Homo sapiens: one gene and its partners. The protein of the gene in region 1 interacts with the protein of each later gene in a pairwise test. Each region holds a gene or a part of one and is shown in the gene's direction. Other genes may lie near its edges.

What was found.
Region 2: the proteins of CNTROB (region 1) and LYST interact in a two-hybrid assay, tested with the Homo sapiens proteins (one study listed by BioGRID).
Region 3: the proteins of CNTROB (region 1) and SYT6 interact in binary tests that used the Homo sapiens proteins (3 or more experiments, as listed by UniProt).

The regions. Positions count from the first base shown.
Region 1 is NC_000017.11:7,935,206-7,942,231, forward strand, and holds part of CNTROB (centrobin), read left to right. Parts: intron 1-1,032; exon of another isoform or gene 1,033-1,124; coding exon of another isoform or gene 1,125-1,160; coding exon 1,161-1,277; intron 1,278-1,495; coding exon 1,496-1,612; intron 1,613-1,958; coding exon 1,959-2,057; intron 2,058-4,307; coding exon 4,308-4,544; intron 4,545-4,890; coding exon 4,891-5,037; intron 5,038-7,026. UniProt on the Homo sapiens protein: Required for centriole duplication. Inhibition of centriole duplication leading to defects in cytokinesis.
Region 2 is NC_000001.11:235,856,885-235,863,910, reverse strand, and holds part of LYST (lysosomal-trafficking regulator), read left to right. Parts: intron 1-5,005; exon of another isoform or gene 5,006-7,026. UniProt on the Homo sapiens protein: Adapter protein that regulates and/or fission of intracellular vesicles such as lysosomes. Might regulate trafficking of effectors involved in exocytosis.
Region 3 is NC_000001.11:114,136,848-114,143,873, reverse strand, and holds part of SYT6 (synaptotagmin-6), read left to right. Parts: intron 1-3,910; coding exon 3,911-4,259; intron 4,260-5,820; coding exon 5,821-6,379; intron 6,380-7,026.

The DNA.
Region 1 (7,026 bases):
TGAAAAGGGCTGAGGGGGCCTGGCGTGGTGGCTCACGCCTGTAATCACAGCACTTTGGGAGGCTGAGGCAGGCGGATCACGAGGTCAGGAGATCGAGACCATCCTGGCTAACACGGTGAAACCCGTCTCTACTAAAAATAGAAAAAATTAGCCGGGCATGGTGGTGGGTGCCTGTAGTCCCAGCTACTCGGGAGGCTGAGGCAGGAGAATGGCGTGAACCTGGGAGGCGGAGCTTGCAGTGAGCCGAGATCATGCCGCTGCACTCCAGCCTGGGCGACAGAGCGAGACTCCGTCTCAAAAAAAAAAAACTAAAAAAGAAAAGGGCTGAGGGTTAAGAGCCTGAAAGCTGGGACTTAAATGTTTTTCTGAGGAGGGCTTTTTTGACCATTCCATCTAATATGGCACCACCTCCTTTCCAAGTAGTCAGATCGCCTTCTTATTTCTTTCATGTAGCTTATCGTTCTGATATATCTTGTTTTTTTCTCCTCTCTAAAATTTGAGGGTCCGTATCTTGTTTGTCTTAGTACTGGCTGCCTAAGGTCTAGAATATACATAACACAGAAACACTCTGTGTTTGTCGAATGGACACAAACTCTGCTAGCTTGTGCACAGGATTTACAGCTACTGGTGATATACTGAGCTTTATCTCTGTGAGCCTCTGCCTTAGTGTCTGAAGGGGACAGAGAAATAGACAAAGGAGAGGAAAAGTCAAAATCACTGGTTGCCATTTTTGGAAGCCTCTCTTTCTCCATGTTAAACCCCTTGGCATGAATGAAAGGCTTTCCCCTTTATCCTTGCTGTGTTTATTCATTGTGTCCAATGAGCTTCTGAAGGTAGGAGTAACTTTGCACATTTTGCTGTGTGGGCTGCTGCATCTCTGCCAAAAGGTTTATGGGATTTTTACTCAGGAGATCCAGGAAAAGGAGGAGCCTGGAATCTAAGCACTTATCTCCTGAAAAGGTACAGAAACATGTTGGAGATCTTGAGCCTCAAGGTGCTTGCTTCAGAATTTTCCTGATTCTCCCTCTCCAGACCTATTCTGTTCTTGGGACCCAAGCTTCTTGGCTCCAGCCCACTCCCCCACTAGAGGAGCTGGAAAGTTTGGTGCTGTGGTCATACCAAAGATGGGCAACACCCAGACTCCTCACCCTTTTCCCCAGCATTGTGAGCGCCATATTCAGAGCCTGCAGACCCGAGTGTTAGAGCTACAGCAACAATTAGCCGTGGCTGTGGCTGCCGACCGCAAGAAAGATACCATGATTGAACAACTGGACAAGGTACCAGGGTAGCAAAATGTGGGTGGGTCTCTCCATGAAGAGCATTAAGGAATAATAAATAAGTGGGTGGCCAACCAATGTTTCTTGGTACATGCTGAGAGCTGGGCAAGGGGTTGGTTTGCTGACTGTTGGGAGAAGATGGCTGTTGACCCTGCCCCTGTGGGTAGAAAGAGGCAAAAAAGTTATTTTGAAATTTCATCTTACTTGCCCTACCTAAGACCCTGGCCCGTGTGGTGGAGGGCTGGAACCGGCATGAGGCTGAGCGGACAGAGGTTCTCAGGGGACTTCAAGAGGAACACCAGGCAGCAGAGCTCACCAGAAGCAAGCAGCAGGAGGTGAGCGCCCTGGAGCATATGGCATTAGAACCTGAGTCACAGATCTCAAGATGGAAAGGGGCAGAAATAGCTCTGGAATTAGGGTTTCCAACAGATTGACCTCAGTCTTGTAGTGGCTGTCCTGACATTTCTTCTCATCCCTCCTTTCTTCTCCTTTAACCGTTTCTGCTGTCCAACTTGAATCATCAATGTCTTAATTTTTCCCACACCATGTAGTCTTCTATCTGGCCCCTTAGTCATTTAGTTAACTGTGAAGTTTCAAGTTTACATTGTCAATGCTTTATAAAATATAGCACACACAGATTTCCCACAGTTCCTCTGCCCTGTATTCCTCTCTTCCTGAAAGACAGTAACCCGCCTGGAACAAAGCCTTTCTGAGGCCATGGAGGCCCTGAATCGTGAGCAGGAAAGTGCCAGACTGCAGCAACGGGAAAGAGAGACACTGGTGAGAAGATTGGACTGGGTTAATTCCACTGGAAGCTGTTAATTACTTCTAGAGAGCTGTGGGCTATTGGTGGATTGTGGGAGATTATAATTTGAGTTGCACCAGAGCACTGTTTCCCAAAGTGTGTTCCTTAGAACACTAATTCAGCTAGATATTCTATTAAAAAAAAAGGCTCTGCTACCAAGTCGGTTTGAGAAACTCTGCAAATTGTATCATCATTAGAATATTAGTGTCATCTGAAGAATTATTTTAAAATATAGGCTAGGCACGGTGGCTCACCCCTGTAATCCCAGCACTTTGGGAGGCCAAGGCAGGCAGATCATGAGGTCAGGAGTTTGAGACCAGCCTGGCCAGCATGGTGAAACCCCGTCTCTACTAAAAATACAAAAAACTAGCTGGACATGGTGGTGCATGCCTGTAGTCCCAGCGACTTGGGAGGCTGAGGCAGGAGAATTGCTTGAACCCAGCAGGCAGAGGTTGCAGTGAGCTGAGATCAAGCCACTGCACTCCAGCCTGGGTGACAGAGTGAGACTCCATCTCAAAAAATAAAAATAAAAAATAAAATAAAATAAAGATTTCTGGGACTCACCTGCAGAGGTTTTGATTCAGTAGATATATGGTGGAACTCAAATCTTTTCAGAAATTTCCTGGGTGATTTTTTTCAATCTGGTTTGGGACCTCTGGTGTAGGGCATGGCCAAAAAAGGTATGAAATTGACTAACTCAAGTTTCTTTTCGTGTTTTTTTTTTTTTTTTTTTGAGACAGGGTCGCGCTCTGTTGTCCAGGCTGGAGTGCAGTGGCACAATCTCAGCTCACTGCAGCCTCTGCCCCCTGGATTCTAGCGATTCTCCCACCTTAGCCTCCCAAGTAGCTGGGACTACAGGCGTATACCACCACGCCTAGCTAATTTTTGTATTTTTTTGGTAGAGACGGGGTTTCGCCATGTTGGCCAGGCTGGTCTCAAACTCCTGACCTCAAGTGATCTGCCCGCCTTGGCCTCCCAAAGTGCTGGGATTACAGGCATAAGCCACCATACCCAGCCACTTCACTCAAGTCTCTTAGAGCTGAAATGATAAGGTGATTAGCCATATGAATTAGTAGCTGGGATTGGAACTTGTTGCATGCATAATGCATGCTTGCTACATGCATGCTGGTACTTGTAGTCTTAACAGGCTATATCTGACAGTCCTGATGATGATGGGTGATGGTTCACGATTATAGGCTGGATATTCTAGTCTTAGTGGAATTTCTTTTGACGATGATGGTGGTAACTATTGTGTATTGAGTACTTACTATGTGCCTGATGCCGTGCTAAATGCCTTACATATGCTTTTTACTTTAATGCTCAGAAGGCAGACCCTGTTATGATCTCCAGTTTACAGATAAGAATGTATGCCTAAGAACACATAGTAAATTCCAGAACCAGGATTCGAACCTGAGATTTGAACCCAGGTCTACCTGGCTCTGGAACAGGAACTCTTATCTACTATATTATAATCCTATGAGCTTGTCAACTATTGTGTTTGTTTGTTTTGAGATGGAGTCTCGCTCTGTTGCCCAGGCTAGGGTTCAGTGGCACAATCTTGGCTCACTGCAACCTCCGCCTCCCAGGTTCAAGCAATTCTCCTGCCTCAGCCTCCTGAGTAGCTGGGAATACAGGTGTGCACCACCATGCCCAGCTAATTTTTATATTTTTAGTAGAGACATGGTTTCACCATGTTGGCCAGGCTGGTCCCAAACTCCTGACCTCAGATGATCTGCCTGCCTCAGCCTCCCAAAGTGCTGGGATTACAGGCATGAGCCACTGCGCCTGTCAACTATTGTGGGGTTTCTTTTGGTTTTATTTGAGATGGAGTCTTGCTCGATGTCGCCTAGGCTGGAGTGCAGTTGTGTGATCCCAGCTCACTGCAACCTCCACCTCCCAGGTTAGAGCGATTCTCCTGCCTTTGCCTCCCAAGTAGCTGGAATTACAGGCACCCACCACCACGCCTGGCTAATTTTTGTATTTTTAGTAGAGATGGGGTTTCACCATGTTGGACCAGGCTGGTCTCAAACTCCTGACCTCAGGTAATCTGCCTGCCTTGGCCTCCCAAAATGCTGGGATTACAGGTGTGAGCCACCGCACCCGGCCTAATTATTGTGTTTTTAATGAGCATAATTCTCAGCAGGCACCTTGTATGAGGGTCAGAGGGCAGATCGCTGGTCTCTGAAGAGCCTACTAAGGAGCTTGGTTTTCTTCTGCGGCTGTAGGAGGAGGAAAGGCAAGCTCTGACTCTGAGGTTGGAGGCAGAACAGCAGCGGTGCTGTGTCCTGCAGGAAGAGCGGGATGCAGCTCGGGCTGGGCAACTGAGTGAGCATCGAGAGTTGGAGACTCTTCGGGCTGCCCTAGAAGAAGAACGGCAGACCTGGGCCCAGCAAGAGCACCAGCTTAAGGAACACTACCAGGCGCTGCAGGAGGAGAGCCAGGCTCAGCTGGAAAGGGAGAAGGTAAAAGTGGCAGTTGGAAGAGCTGAGGAACTAGGGAGTAGATGAAGGGCAAAATAATTGAATGGGATGGAATGTTAGAATATGGGGGATACATATAGGCAGGAATGGAGAGTAGAGAGCCATGTGTGGGAGACAAGGTTGAGAGTATAGGGCCAGCAGGAAGGGCTGGGGGTAATGAATACGTGAAAGGCCAAAGACTGAAATTCAACAGGGATGGGGAAATAAAACAAATGGGAGGAGCTGGGGGAAGCTTGGATTTTAGGGTTTGGGAGGATGAACTGGGGAGTGTAGGTAACCAGGAGATAAGAAATGAGGTATGTATATACATTTGATTTGTCTTTCATAGGAGAAGAGCCAGAGGGAAGCCCAGGCCGCCTGGGAGACCCAGCACCAGTTGGCATTGGTGCAGTCTGAGGTGCGGCGGCTGGAAGGAGAGCTGGATACAGCTCGGAGAGAGAGAGATGCCCTGCAGCTGGAAATGAGCTTGGTGCAGGTCAGAAGGCAGAGGTTTCTTGAGGTTTTGTTCTGACAGAAGTAGATCTGAGGCAGAGGGACCTCTCAGGAGTTGTGGCAGACACTCCCAGTTCAGGTGTTTGGGGTTTAATTCCATTAACAGTTTCTATGTAGTATGGGTAGTTTTCTGTCCTAAACTCAGAGCTATTTCTTACTGAGTGACCATTTCCCACAATATGTCAGACTGACCTAGTGTTACTTTTAGGATTAAATAGATTTAAATCTATTAAAGATACCTTATGTTATTTTAAGAGATGACACCACACTTAGTGGGTTGACAGAGCAGGTGAAAGCTTTTGTCAGAGACTTGATTCCAATTGTAACAGTGTGCTTTGTAATTCTCATTACTTGAATAACTTGTATTAATTTCTCTGAGTAGGTCAGGGACCCAGGAGGGCAATGATTTTTTAATTTACTTATGAAACTTCCATAACAGCACATGGCCTGGCACAGAATTGTACTCAAAAATTGTTTGTCAGATATAATTACACTTTGAAAAACTCTTTCCATCTAGCTAACACACTGAATTTTAAATTCAAACTAGTCGGACTCTTGCCATGGAATAGAGCAGGAGTTGGCGAACTTTTTCTGTAAAGGGCCAGACAGTAAATATTTTTAGCTTTGTGGGTTGTATGGTCTCAGTTGCAACTACCCAACTCTGCTGTTATACCACAGAAGTAGCTATAAACTGTACGTAAACAAATGGGCACAGCTGTGTTCTAGTACAACTTATCTAAACAGGCAATGGAGGGCTGAATTGGGCTGTAGTTCGCCGATCTCCAGAATAGAGGAAAGGATTGGAGAGAGCTGTGTTCCAGCCCATGGGGGAGACACAGCGTTGAAGAGGAAAGAGTATTGCATTAGGACTTAGGGCACTTACGTCTACTTCTAGCTAGAATTTTGACCTTTATGGGCCTCTGTTTTTATGTATAAAATGTGTAAGGACAAATTGATGAATTTTCCAGGTGCAAGCCAGTCTGAGAGGCTATGTTCCTTATAAATGGTTAACTTAAGGAGGTACCAGTGAGGCCAGCATTTGAGAACCACAATCCTTTGGCCCGGTATGGTGGCTCATGCCTGTAATCCCAGCACTGTGGGAGGCCAAGGCGGGTGGATCACTTGAGCCCAGGAGTTTGAGACCAGCCCGGCCAACATGGTGAAACCCTGTCTCTACTAAAAATACAAAAATTATCCAGGTGTATGGTGCACACCTGTAGTCCCGGCTACTAAGAAGGCCGAGGCAGGAGAATCGCTTGAACCCGGGAGGTGGAGGTTGCAGTGAGCCCAGATTGAACCAGTGTACTCCAGCCTGGGCAACAGAGTGAGACTCCATCTCAAAAAAAAAAAAAAAAAAAGAATTGACCTAGGGCTTCAGGTGTTACAATGAGATCACATGCGATAAAGACTAAGAAAGCATCCGGGTGTGGTGGCTCGCACCTGGAATCCCAGCACTTTGGGAGGCCGAAACGGGCAGATTGCTTGAGCCCAGGAGTTCAAGACCAACCTGGGCGCAATATGGCAGTACCTAAACTCTGCTAAAAATACAAAAACTTAGCCGGGTATAGTGGCATGCACCTGTAGTCCCAGCTACTCGGGAGGCTGAGGTGGGAGGATCAACTGAACCCTGGAAGTAGAGGCTGCAGTGACCCGTGATCACACCACTGCACTCCAGCCTGGGTGACAGGAGCGAGACCGAGTCTCAAAAAAAAAAAAGACAGAAAGGGCCAGGTGTGGTGGCTCACGCCTGTAATCCCAGCACTTTGGGAGGCTGAAGTGGGAGGATTGCTTGAGTCCAAGAGTTTGAGACCAGTCTGGGCAACATAATGAGACCCCATCTCTACAAAAAATAAAAATATTAGCTGGGTGTTGTGGCACCAGCTTGTAGTCCCAGCTACTCTGGAGGCTGAGGTGGGAGGATCTCTTGAGTCTGGGAGGTCAAGACTGCAGTGAGCCATGATCACACCACTGC
Region 2 (7,026 bases), on another chromosome or scaffold:
ACTGGATTTTACAAGGAAGTGCACAGATGGGCCTCACAGAAAATTCAAAAGCCTGAGTAAGTTTGGCCAAGCAAAGAATTTTTGTCAAAGCTGAGATTATTAGTAGTAAACACAAGTGACTTTGTTTTGAAGACACTTTTTACGTTACCTTGACTATACCAGGGGGTTAAAAATTTCACCCATAAACTGCCAGCTTTGATTTCATGATTATTTTCTTCTTAATTCTTTTGGACCAACCTAGTCATTCTTTTCCCAATTGTAGTTTTATTTTTGTTTGATTGCACTCACATAGTGTGTTTGTTAGCTTCGGTTGTAGAGAGAGCCATATAGTCTGGAATTTCAGAGTACCTTTTTGGTCTGTTGCTGTATTTAACTTGAACACCTTCATCTGATTAATCTTTTCCTGAATTATCTGGTTGCCGGCTTAAGTTCAACATTTTTTTTTTTTTTAGACAGAGTCATTCTCTGGTTTCTCTTCAAATTGTATAAATCTTTCGCCTTTTACTAAAGATTTCCGTGGAGACAGAGTCTCGCTCTGTCACCCAGGCTGGAGTGTAGAGGCGAGATCTTGGTTCACTGCAACCTCCACCTCCCAGGTTCAGCCAATTCTCCTGCCTCAGCCTCCAGAGTAGCTGGGACTACAGGTGTGTGCCACCACACCCGGCTGATTTTTTGTGTTTTTAGCAGAGATGGGGTTTCACTGTGTTAGCCTGGATGATCTCAATCTCCTGACCTCATCATCTGCCCTCCTCGGCCCCCAACTGTGCCTGGATTACAGGCGTGAGCCACCGTGCTGGGCCAAGTTCAAGATTTTTTTTAAGCCCTAAAATGTTATCAAGTGTGGCTTTACTTGGCCATTTGCAAAATTACAAAGGAAATGACTCATTTTTAATACTTTGTAATGTCAAAAGACAAAATTACAACAAATTTAGCTTAAAGATCTTACTTCACCTTTGCCATTGTAGAATCAGGCAACACCTCATTTTATAAAATAGAACAAGTGTTCTCATGAGCCGAGCAGAAGTGGTTGGTTTTATGGTAGTCTCACTTTATCTTGAAGGGGTGTGTGTGTGTGTGTGTGTGTGTGTGTGTGTGTGTGTGTGTTTGTTTGTTTTGAGATGGAGACTTGCTGTGTTGCCCAGGCCAGAGTGCAGTGGGGTGATCTCAGCTTACTGCAAACTCCGGCTCCTAGGTTCAAGCGATTCTCCTGCCTCAGCCTCCTGAGTAGCTGGGACTACAGATGCCTGCCACCATGCCCGGCTAATTTTTGTAATTTTAGTAGACATGGGGTTTCACCGTGTTGCCCAGGCTGGTCTCGAACTGCTGACCTCAAGTGATCTGCCCATCTTGGCCTCCCAAAGTGCTGGGATTACAGGCATGAGCCACCGCACCCGGCCTTGGGGAGATATGTTCTAAGATCCCCAGTGGAAGCCTGAAATGGTGGATAGTACTGAATCCTATATACACTATAGGGCAGGATGAGATTTCATCATGCTACTCAGAACAGGGTGCAATTTGAAATTATGAATTATTTCTGGAATTTTCCATTTAATATTTTCAGACCACAGTTGACCTCAGGTAACTGAAACCTTGGAAAATGAATCTGCGGATAAAGGGATACTACCGTATACACTGAAAAGGGGTGAGGAAAACAGAAACAGAAAAGAAAAAGCAAATTGGTCATTTAAAGTTACTTTTCTTATTAGGGTTAAAGCAGATGGGACTTCCTTATGTCAGTCATATCATATCATATCAACTGGCCTGTTTGGGATTTGACTACTAACTCTGTCTCTCCTGATTGCTTGGAAGGTCAGATAAACAACTTAGTTTTGGCTTGGTGAAGTGGAACTTCAGCATGAGTGACTCCATTTTGATTTGATCTGTTGTCCCTAGTGCAGGAGGAACTCAGTCTAAACCAGTGACCTCCTATAAATTTCATTTAACACTGGTAAGTTAGTAATATGCAGGGATTAGCCTAATTGTTTTGTTTCAGTAAAGATGGCTTGAAATAAATGGGCCATCACATGTTAAATGAAGATCTTCTAAATCAAATTATATAGTATTTGTAGCAATAGAATTTGCCCTGTAAAACTTGGATAAAAAGTCTATCAGTCTCCGAAGCCAGGAGCCATGGCTTGTGCCTATAGTCCCAGTTACTTGGAAGACTGAGGTGGGAGGATCGCTTGAGCCTGGTTCGAGTCCAGCCTGGGCAACACAGCAACACGTCATCTCTAAACAGAACAAACAAACAAAACATATATATGTATATATCAGTCTTCTGGAATTTAAGGTCTACACTTTAAGAACCAGGAAATAAGCTAATTTTTTAAAATGGATTTTCAACCTAAATATATCTTAAAAATGTATAAAAATCTGTCAGATTAATAACTAATTATAAACTGATCTTGGAGTCTTTGAGGGCACTGTATTGTCTTTGATATTATTTTATTTTGCTGCTGTGTGTCACCAGTGTTTGGCTTTGTAACTCTTAATCCCCCAACTTTGTTTACAGTAATGAGAGAGGTCCAATACGTTTGGAAATGTTGAAGGCTTTCCAGGTCTAACTGCTGAAAAACAAAAATCTTACCTAATAACATGAAAGATTAATGCTTAAAATTGATTATCTTAATCAAGAAAGGAATCAAATAATTTTCAAAAGGCTAGTCATTGTTCCATTCAAATATGATTCTTTGAAATTAAAACATAAAATGGATGAGGACATAAGAGAGCTTTTCACTATTTTAACTGAATGGAAGAAATAAATGAACAATAGGGTAGAGTACTACACATATTAGAAATGTTTATAAAACTACTGCCACTCATCTTTAAAAAGCAATGTTTATATAACAGATTACTACTTAGCAATAACAAGGAATGAACTTTAGATCACACAACAACATGGATAAATCTCAAAATAATTACACAGCACGAAAAAAAGCCAGACCAAAAAGAAAAAAAAAGTACATACTGCATTGTTCCATCTGTAAAATTCTAGAAAATGCCTATTAATCTATAATGGAAGAAAGATCAATGCTGGCCTGGAGATAAGTTACAGAGGGAAGGGGCAGGAAAGAGGGAGAACAGTGGCATACTAGGAAACTTCAGGGGATACTAGATATGTTTACTATCTTGATTTGATGATGGTTTCATGGGTGTACACATATGTTGGAACATATCAAATTATGCACTTTAAATATGTGGTTTGTTACATGTCAGTTATACCTGTAAAGTTGTGTTTAAAAGTGGCTTGACCATGAAAAGACATGAAGAAATCTTTAGTGCATATCACTAAGTGAAAAAAGGCAAACTGAAAAGTCTGCATACTTTATGATTACAAGTGTATGGCATTCTGGGAAAGGCAAAACTATGGAGACAGTAAAAAGATTAGTGGTGGAGAGAAGGAGGGATGAATACGCAGAGCACAGAAGATTTTTAGGGCGGTGAAACTATTCTGAAGATACTACAGTGGTAGCTACATGTTATTATACATTTGTCGATACCCATAGAATATACCACATCAAGAGTGAATCCTAATGTAAACTGTGGACTTTGGGTGATAATGACCTGTCAGTGTAGGTTCATTGATTATAACAAATGTACCAGTTTAGGGGGGCTGTCCATAGTTGGGGAGGCTGTACATGTGTGAGAGAGCAGGGTGTACATGGAAACTCTGTAATTGCCTCTCTGTTTTGTTGTGAACCTAAAACTCTTCTAAAAAATAAAGTCTTTTTTTAAAAAAGAGGATAGAAGATTTCTGCCAGAAACCTGAAGAATTGCATATTTTACATTTAAAAATGGGGGGAGAGGAAGGTAAAGTCCAGAAACTATATATTGAAAATCTTGACACTGACTGATTCCTAGAAAAACTATAGACCAGCTTGCCAAGTGCTTAGTGATTTGTAATTAGAAAAGAAAGCACTGATTACTAAGACCCAGAATTTGTTTAAGAACAAGTCATATTAAGCTAACTTCATGCTTACTTTGCCAAAGATGTAATAGTATTTGTATGATACTCTTTGTATAGTACTACTTTATAACTTACAGAGTACATTCCCATTTATTATTTTATTTAACCCTGACAACATCCCTTTCAATTCGTGTAAGATGAGAAAGACCTCAACAGTAATAATCCCAGGAAGGCGCAAAGGGGACAGATGTGAGAGATTTTAGAAAGGCCTTGTGTAGTTATGGATAAAGGAGAGGGAGGAATCAAAGCAGGCTTTAAGGATTCTAGATTGTCTGAGGGTGAATGGGGATGCAGATAATTACTCGTAATTTAAAAAATACGGGTGGAGGAGTGGATTTGGAGATGTGAAATCCATCAGTTTTCTTCAGTTTGGTGGAATTAGCTGTTTTATTTCCTTTGTTGAAACTGAGTCAGATATAGATACATTTAAAAAAAAAAAAAGGCCTGGTGCTCAGGAGAGAAGCCTAAACCCAATAAAACAATTTTCATTTGTTCAGTAAATATATTCTTTCAAATACTTTTGGTAATGAAGGGAGGTTAGTGGGTAGAAGCTTGAGGAAGTAGATGTGATCATTGGGAAGGTTTGTCTGTTTTAAGGATGGAGAAGCCAAGGACACTTCAGTGGATTGAGGGAAAGGGACCATTGAAGAGGAAGAAAATTGAAGTCACAAGAGGTAGAAGATAATTGATCAAATGTAACGAGAGGAAATGGAAGAGTCAGGTCCAGGAGGACAAATGAAAGAGTTACCCTGAAGAAGAGGAATGATGTATCTTCCTGTTTAAAAACGAAAAGGAAATGGGGTAGATATAGATATAAGTTAGTATCCAGGATGACATCTCTTTTTCTCTGTGAAGCAAGATTATCTGCTGAGATTGAGAAGGAAGAACATGGGTTGGAGTATGCTTGAGGGGAAAATAAAAGTTACTATTGAGATTGTAAAAGGGACTTAACTAGGGGCATGTGACTTCTTTGCTGAATCATGATGAATACCCTTCCAGGCTTGAAATCACAAATGTACAGAGGCCAGCAGGATGGTTAAGCAGTGTTCTCCAGCAGCCTGCCTGCTCCCACTCCCCTTCCCTGCCCCCCATAACAATGCAGAAAACAAATAGACTGAACTTGGACCACTCCCCTTCCCCACCCCCATAACAATGCAGAAAACAAGTAGACTGAACCTGGATTGAGATTGGAAGGGAAGATGTGATGGAAAACTTGAGTAGGGGGTAGTGGGAAGTCAAGGAATAGAGAGTGGTAATGAGGCTGCTAATTGAAGGGTTGAGCCATAGGAATCCTGCTTATTAAGGAACAAAGCCAAGCCAAGACAAGGCTGGTAAATGTGGATAATGAAGAGGATGAAGAATCTAAATGAGTCAAGTGCAGGATTAATGGAAATAAAAGAGTACTAGAGATGGAAAAATTGGCACATAGATGTGAGAATTCTCAATTTAAGATTCTGGAGTTAGCAGTTTCAGGTGATGATAAGGGCCAAAGAATGACCAATGATGGGTGGATAGCCAAGATTAATAGTGCTAATTATAACAATATTAATATTAATAAAAACTACTATTCATTGAACACTGTGTAGTAGTCACTATAGTAAATATTTTCCATAGGTTATCATGCTTATGTTTCACATATTAGTATCAACATTTTACAGATGAGGAAACTGGAGCTCAGTGAGATTGAGTAACTTTTCCCAAGACTCACAGCTACGAAGTACCTGAGTCTTTCTGAGTCCTTCTAGCATTGAAGCACTTATGCCTGACTACTAAACCATGCTAGCCTTCTGCAAAGTAGGGGTCATTGAAGAAGAAGGCAAAGAGCATTAAGTCTTGTGTGTTGGAATCAATTGTTCTTATGGATAATGAAGTCCCCAGAATATATAGCTTCTGTGTGGAAAGGAAGATAGTCATACGACAAAATTCTCAGTAAATGGAGATGGCTGACTCAAAGGTCAGTAGGTGACAACTATAAATATAGCTATAATGTAATCTTAAAAGTGGATAAAATCGAATAACAATGACTTACAAGTCATCTTGGGAAACTAGGAGAATACTGACTTGTCTTCCTGGCCCCCAAAGTGATGCATATGAAAATATTAACCATTCATTTCTTAACCCTCTCTTCTCTCTTGGCTTGTGAAATTTTATATATATATGTGTGTGTGTGTGTGTGTGTGTGTGTGTGTGTGTGTGTGTGTATTTACATATGTTTGTGTATATATACGTGTGTGTGTGTATATATATACACCTGTGTGCACACGCGCACACACACCCACAGACACACCCCCCTCTTTTTTGGTTTTCCTCGTACCCCTCTAACCACTCCTCTTCAGTCTCATTGGCTGGATTCTTCTTTGCCAGCTCCTTCATGTTGGTGAGCCTCTGGATTCTCTCCTCCTCCTCATTTCTCTTTCTTTGTGCTTTCCTTTGATGATCTCATCTATTTCTAAGCTTTCATATACCACCTATATGTTAATGACTTCTGAATGTTCATCTAGAGATGAATCTAGAACTTTCTTCAAATCCCAACATCCTTATATAGGAAGATGTACCCAGAAGAAATAGCCCATGATATTTCAGGGCAATATCATGTGACTAGAGAAAGTCATCTTAGGCTAGTAATCTCCACTCATGCCCATCTAGTTGAGGGCTCAATTCACTTATTTTCAACATCCACAACCATTTCTAAGGTGATAGCTTCTCTGGTTACTTATCACTGGTATGACCAAACATCTTGATTTGCCTAAGATGGCTCTGGTTTATGCCTATTGTTCAAGACCAACCTGGCCAACATGGTGAAACCCCATCTCTACTAAAAATACAAAAAATTAGCTAGGTGTGGTGACGCACACCTGTAATCCCAGCTACTGAGGAGGCTGAGGCATGAGAATCGCTTGAACCTAGGAGGTGGAGGCTGCAGTGAGCCGAGATCGCACCACTGCATTCCAGCCTGGGCGACAAGAGTGAGATTTCATCTCAAAAAAAAAAAAAAAAAAAAAATCAGTATATCCTGTGTAACTTGTAAGAGCTGCTTATATCCATCAGCTCACTCTTAT
Region 3 (7,026 bases), on another chromosome or scaffold:
ATAGGGGCATACCCCTTTCTTGGGATAATGGGCATCCCTGGGGTCAGGGGTGGGCTGGGGGTGGGGGAGTGAGAGCCCACCTCCAAACCAATCACAACATTTAAAATACCAGTTTTACAGCAAAGCTCTTGAATAGCCACAGGAATGGAGGAGGACAGCTCTAGGAATCATTTGTACACAAATACCTTGGAGATATTGTAGGTTCAGTTACAGACTACTGCAATAAAGCACATATCAAAATAAAGCAAGTCACACAAATTTTTTGGTTTCCCAGTGCATATAAAAGTTATATATATATACACACACACACACACATGCACATAAGTTATATATAACTTATATGTATATATACACATATAAGTTATATATAACTTATACATATATACATATGTATGTATGTATATATAGATATATATAACTTTTAAACTGTGCTACTTTTATACTATATATGTATATATACACACATAACTTTTATACTATACTACTTTTATACTATATATACATATATGTATCTAAAACTTTTATACATATAAGTATATGTAATTTATATATGTACACATGTAAACATATATATAACTTTGTGTAATTCTATTGTACACTTAATAGACTAAAGTATATTTTATAAAAAGAAATAGAATTATTAGAATAGCACAATAGAATTAAATAAAATATATATAGTATAAAATATACTGTAGTCTATTAAGTGTATACAGTATATACATATATGTATATATACATATATGTGAATATATACATATACACACAGTATAAAATATACTGTAATATACTGTAAATATAATGGCATCAAGAATGGTGAATCCTATTCATATGGTTTTCAATTTACTTTGCCCAGATCCATCAGAGGAATCACTATCCATGGCAGCTAAAGCCTTACAAAAAGTATACATTGTAATATATTTACCTATATATATACACATATACAGTGTAAAATATACTGTAGCCTATTAAGTGTGCAATAAAATTACACCCAAAAACAATATATACACCTTAATTTTAAAAGCTTGATTGCTAAAAAATGCTAAATTGCTAAAAATGAGCCTTCAGTGAGTCTTAATCTCTTTTTGCTGGTGGAGGGTCTTGCTTCGATGTTGATGGCTGCTGACTGACCAGTTTGGTGGTTGCTGGTGGCTGGAGTGGCTGTGGCAATTTCTTAAAATAAGACAACGGTGAGTTTGCTGCGTCAATGGACTTTTCCTTTCACTAAAGATATCTCTGTAGCATGCACCGCTGTCTGATAGCATTTTATCCATAGTAGAACTTCTTTCAAAATTGGAGTCAATCCTCTCAACCCCTGCCACTGCTTTATCAACTAAGGTTATGTAATATTCTAAGTCCTTTGTGGTCATTTCAGCAATGTTCACAGCATCTTTACCTGGAGTATATTTTATCTCAAGAAGATAAAATATTTACTCATCCACAATTTATTTACTCATCCACAAGAAGCAACTCCTCATCCATTCTTCAGGCTCCACTTCTAATTCTGGTTCTCTTGCTATTTCCACCACATCTGCAGTTATTTCCTTCACTGAGGTCTTGAACCCCTCAAAGCCATTCACGATGTTTGGAATCAACTTCTTTTAAATTTCAGTTAATGTTGATATTTTGACCTTTTCCCCTGAATTATGAATGTTCTTAATGGCATCAAGAATGGTGAATCCTATTCAGACAGTTTTCAATTTACTTTGCCCAGATCCATCAGAGGAATCACTGTCTATGACAGCTAAAGCCTAAGATTTGAAAGTTGAAATTACTCCTTGATCCATGGGCTGCAGAATGGACGTTGTTTTAGCTGGCATGAAAACAACATTTATCTCCTTGTACATCTGCATCAGAGCCTTTGGGTGACTAGGTGCATAGTCAATGAGCAGTAATATTTTGAAAGGAATCATTTCTTCTGAGCAGTAAGTCTCAACAGTGGGCTTAAAATATTCAGTAAACCATTCTTAAACAGATATGCTATTATCCAGGTTTTGTTTTTCCATTTTTAGAGCATAGGCAGAGTAGATTGAGCATAATTCTTAAGGGCCGTAGGATTTTTGGAATGGTAAATAAGCACTGGGTTCATCTTAAAGTCATCAGCTGTGTTAGCCCCTAAAAAGAGAGTCAGCCTGTCCTTTGAAATTTTGAAGCCAGGCATTGACTTCCCCTTTCTAGCTATGAAAGCCCTAGGTGGCATCTTCTTCCAATATAAGGCTATTTCTTCTACTCTGAAAATGTGTTGTTTAGTGTAGTCACCTTCATCAATTATCTTAGTTAGATCTTCTGAATCACTTACTGCAGTTTCTACATCAGCACTTGCTGCTTCATCTTTGAACTTTTGCATTATGGAGAGGACTTCTTTCCTTAAACCTCAAGAACCAACCTCTGCTAGATTCAAACGTTTCTTCTGCAGCTTCCTCTCCTTTTTCAGTCTTCATAGAATGAAAGAAAGGTACTGTCTTGCTCTGGATTAGGCTTTGGCTTAAGAGAATGTTGGGGCTGGTTTGATCTTCTGTCCAGACCACTAAAGCTCTCTTCACATCAGCAATAAGACTGTTTTGCTTTCTTATCATTTGTGTGTTTGCTGGAGTAACACTTCTGATTTCCTTTAAGATCTTTTTCTTTGCATTCACAACTTGGCTGTGAGGCACAAAATGCCTCGCTTTTGGCCTGTCTTGGCTTTTGATATGCCATCCTCACTAAGCTTCATTATTTCTAGCTTTTGATTTAAAATGAGAGTCATGTGACACTTTCTTTGACCTGAACACTTAGAAGTCAAAGTAAGGTTATCAATTGGCCTAATTTCAATATTGTTGTGCCTCAGCAAATAGAGAGGCCTAAGGAGAGGAATGGCCAGCCAGGGGAGCAGCCAGAACACACACAACATTTATCAATTAGGTTGGCCATCTTACATGGATGCAGCTCAGGACGCCTCAAAACAATGACGATAGGAATATCCAAGATCACTGATCACAGATCATAGATCACCATAACAACCATAATAGTAATTTAAAAGTTTGAAATAATGTGAGAATTAACAAAACGTGACAGACACAAAATGTGCACATGCTGTTGGAAAACTGGCACAGAAAGACTTGTTCAAGGCAGGGTGGCCACAAATCTTCAATTTGTAAAAAATACAGGATCTGTGAAGCACAATAAAGTGAAGCATAGCAAAATGAAGTGTGCCTCTATTTAGCTTTGAAGTGCACTGTGTAGATCAGATTCCAACTTAATAGAAGTATTTATTGAGCCTACTATGCACAGAGTTCTGGGAGTACAGAAGAACATAATCCTTGCCCTTAAAGAGATTATGCTCAATCTCATTCACTTGAAGTCAACTCAATGTTTATTGAGTTCCTGTCTTGGGCTCAGTGGGGATGGGATAAAGAAGAAAAGAGGATGAGTTAGCCAGCCTCTGCCCCCCAAGGTATCACACCCTGTTAAGGAAGTGGGCTGTAGACAAAAATGACTCTAAGTCTGGCCATAGTAGCAGCTTTAATAGAAATTCAAACAGCATCTCAACATGAATCCTTCACAAATTTGCACATTTGCTTAGGCTGCTATTTAAATTATTTTCATTTCCCTGTGCACGTGCCAATAGCCAGTAGAGAGGACAGCCCAGGTGCTCCCCAAGCTGGCTGGGGGGATAGGGGTGGGGGCGGGAGAGAGGATGATGCTGGAAGAATCAGATTGAGGTGAACACAAGGCTGTACATACTCCACCAAGTGGACAATCAAGAGTCAACCCTGAAACCACCTCTCCCTCTGACCTGGCAGCTTTCTCATGACCATTCTTCTCTCTTCTTCCGTCTTTGTCCCTTCCGTGTGCCCCCTCCTCCAACACCCTCACCCGCTTCTCCCCGCCTCTGTCTGTCTGTCCCTCCCTGCCTGGCTCATGCCGAGGGCAGGCACCTCTGTCAGCCTCCTCGCAGTTGTAGTTATTGTGTGTGGCGTGGCCCTGGTGGCAGTTTTTCTCTTTCTCTTTTGGAAGCTGTGCTGGATGCCCTGGAGGAACAAGGAGGCCTCCAGTCCCTCTTCTGCTAATCCCCCCTTGGAAGCCCTCCAGAGCCCCAGCTTCAGAGGCAACATGGCGGACAAGCTGAAGGACCCCAGCACCCTGGGCTTCCTGGAGGCGGCCGTGAAGATCAGCCACACGTCCCCAGATATCCCAGCTGAGGTGCAGATGTCGGTCAAGGAGCACATCATGCGTCACACCCGGCTGCAGCGGCAAACTACAGAGCCAGCGTCATCCACCAGGTGAGGAGTGGACCACTCCCTTCCCTGACCCCCACACCTCCACACTCCCTTAATACATCTATGGGATTCCAGCCTGTGGGGATCACAGACCAGAAATAATAACACATATCCTTTGATTGACAAATATGTCAGATGATGTGAGCCATGATGGGTGATCAATGAGGAGGTGGGCACCAGGAAAGACTTCATGAAAGGGAAACCTTTGAGGCGGGTTGCTGTATATGTGGTTTGCACTTGGGGTGTGTGTGGGTGTGAGGGGAATGGAATAGTGGAATAGGGGAGTGTTGGATGTTTGGAAGGAAAGACTTCAGGCAGAAGGAAGAGAACAGTAAAGGCCTAGAGATGTAAGAGTTCATGGTGTGTTTAGGGATATGTCAGTAAAGCCTGATAGCTACAGTCTGCAGTACATGGCAGATAAGGCAAGGGAATCTTAATAGTTTGAGAATCAGGATTCCTTTAAAGCCTTTCAGAGTTCCCTGCATGACAACAACTGTAAATACATACAGCATCCTTTAACTGAAAATAGCAACAAGAAAAACATAACGACAAAAACCTACCCTAAATTCAGAAGCACTTTTAAAAGATGTGGTGCAAGCATGCGTAAGGCATTGTATTTACTCAAAACTTAGGGCTCTGATGGACTCCTAGGTCCCTGCAACGGCTCTCCAGGCCCTCAGGGGACCAACAAAAGAGAACGAGGCCTGGTCTTCAGACTGGAGGCCAGGAATGAACATGCTGGGAGGTCACACTGACAGTCTGTCATATGGCCTTGGGCAAGTTCCTCACCTTCCCTTAGACTCACTTTTTCCAACTGTAAAATAAGGCTGATGACTTTTATATGGCAGTTGTGAGGAGCCAATGGAAGAATCAATGTGATTGATAAGGAGAGCTAACACATATATTGCTTATGATTATGCTTGGCTCTATTCTAAGCACTTCATATGTAATCAATTCATTTCACAGCAATCCTATGCAGCTGTTACTTTTATTATCCTCGTTTTTATGGCACAGAGAGGTTAAATAACTTTCCCAAGATCTCAGCTAGAAAGTGACAGAGCCAAAATTAACCTATGCAGGCTAACTCCAAAGCCCATGCTTTTACCACTCTGCTGCCTGCCGTATAGCAAATGCTTAACAAATGGTGATGGTGATGATGGTGATGAAGTGGGTGCCACATTGAGGATAAGAAGGGATGGTCCTTCTCTTAAGGAATCTCATGATTTAATAAGGAAACCAGAGTCATGTCTACTAGGAAGTAAACCTAGAAAGCAGGTAACAGAAAAGCAGGAAAAAGTGATTATGATAACAATGGCTAAAGTTTATTGAGCTTACTATATATCAGGCACCATTCCAACTACTTTACATATATTAAGACATGTAATGCTCACCACAACCTTGCACACAAAGTGTATGCAGAGCAAAAGTGGGGTCAAGAAGAGGAAGGAAAAGGGGGCTCAACAAGGGATAAGATGAGCCAGGGCCTCCAGGCTCGTGTTTGCCTTCATCCCCCTTCCCCTGAGCCCTGACCACACTCCCTCTGCCCCCTCCTGCCCTCTACCAGGCACACGTCCTTCAAGCGCCACCTGCCAAGGCAGATGCATGTCTCCAGTGTAGACTATGGCAATGAGCTTCCACCAGCAGCAGAGCAGCCCACCAGCATTGGCCGCATCAAGCCTGAGCTCTACAAGCAGAAGTCGGTGGATGGGGAGGATGCCAAGTCTGAGGCCACCAAGAGCTGCGGGAAGATCAACTTCAGCCTACGCTACGATTACGAGACCGAGACCCTGATTGTGCGTATCCTGAAGGCTTTTGACCTCCCTGCCAAGGACTTTTGTGGAAGCTCTGACCCTTATGTCAAGATCTACCTCCTGCCTGACCGCAAATGCAAGCTGCAGACCCGGGTGCACCGCAAGACCCTGAACCCCACCTTTGATGAGAACTTCCACTTCCCTGTGCCCTATGAGGAGCTGGCTGACCGCAAGCTGCATCTCAGTGTCTTCGACTTTGACCGCTTCTCCCGCCATGACATGATTGGCGAGGTCATCCTGGACAACCTCTTTGAGGCCTCTGACCTGTCTCGGGAAACCTCCATCTGGAAGGATATCCAATATGCCACAAGTGTAAGTACAGCCCTGTTCCTTGGCTTCTTGAGGATTTGTGGTTCTGGGTTGGGTGGGACATGTCCCCAAACCCTCACTTCCTAGAGACAAATGGGCCTTTGCCATTTGGGATGTGAAGAGGGACTCTGGAAACTGCCCAGTGGCCCAGTCTACCCTTGCACTCTGCCCCAGGTTGGGATGGCAGAGAGCAGAGTCCCCATGTAGCTAGGAAGGGAAGGGAATTTTTATCTGTGGCTTCTGGTTGCATGTTCTGGGGTGGTTCTTTCTACTGAGAGTACTGATGTGCATTAGAAACTTGGCATAGGCAATTGAAACAGGCCATATCAATCAGACTGAACTAGGCTATGCTGCAGCAGCAAACAGTCCGAGGATTTTGTGGCTTTAGACAACCAAAGTTTATGCCTTGTTCATGTTTCATGTGCTTTGCAGCTGGACTGGGGACTCTGCTCCACCTTGTTACCTGGGGACCCAAGCCAACAGAGGCTGCATTTAGACACGGGCCCCCACAGTTAAACATCAGGAGGAAGAGGAAGTGGCAAATCACGCACTGTTTATTAAAACTTCCACGCAGAAGTGACACATGTCACTTCCACTCCCATTAGAACAAGACACGCGGTAACTCCTAATATCAAGGGAGAAGGGGCAAA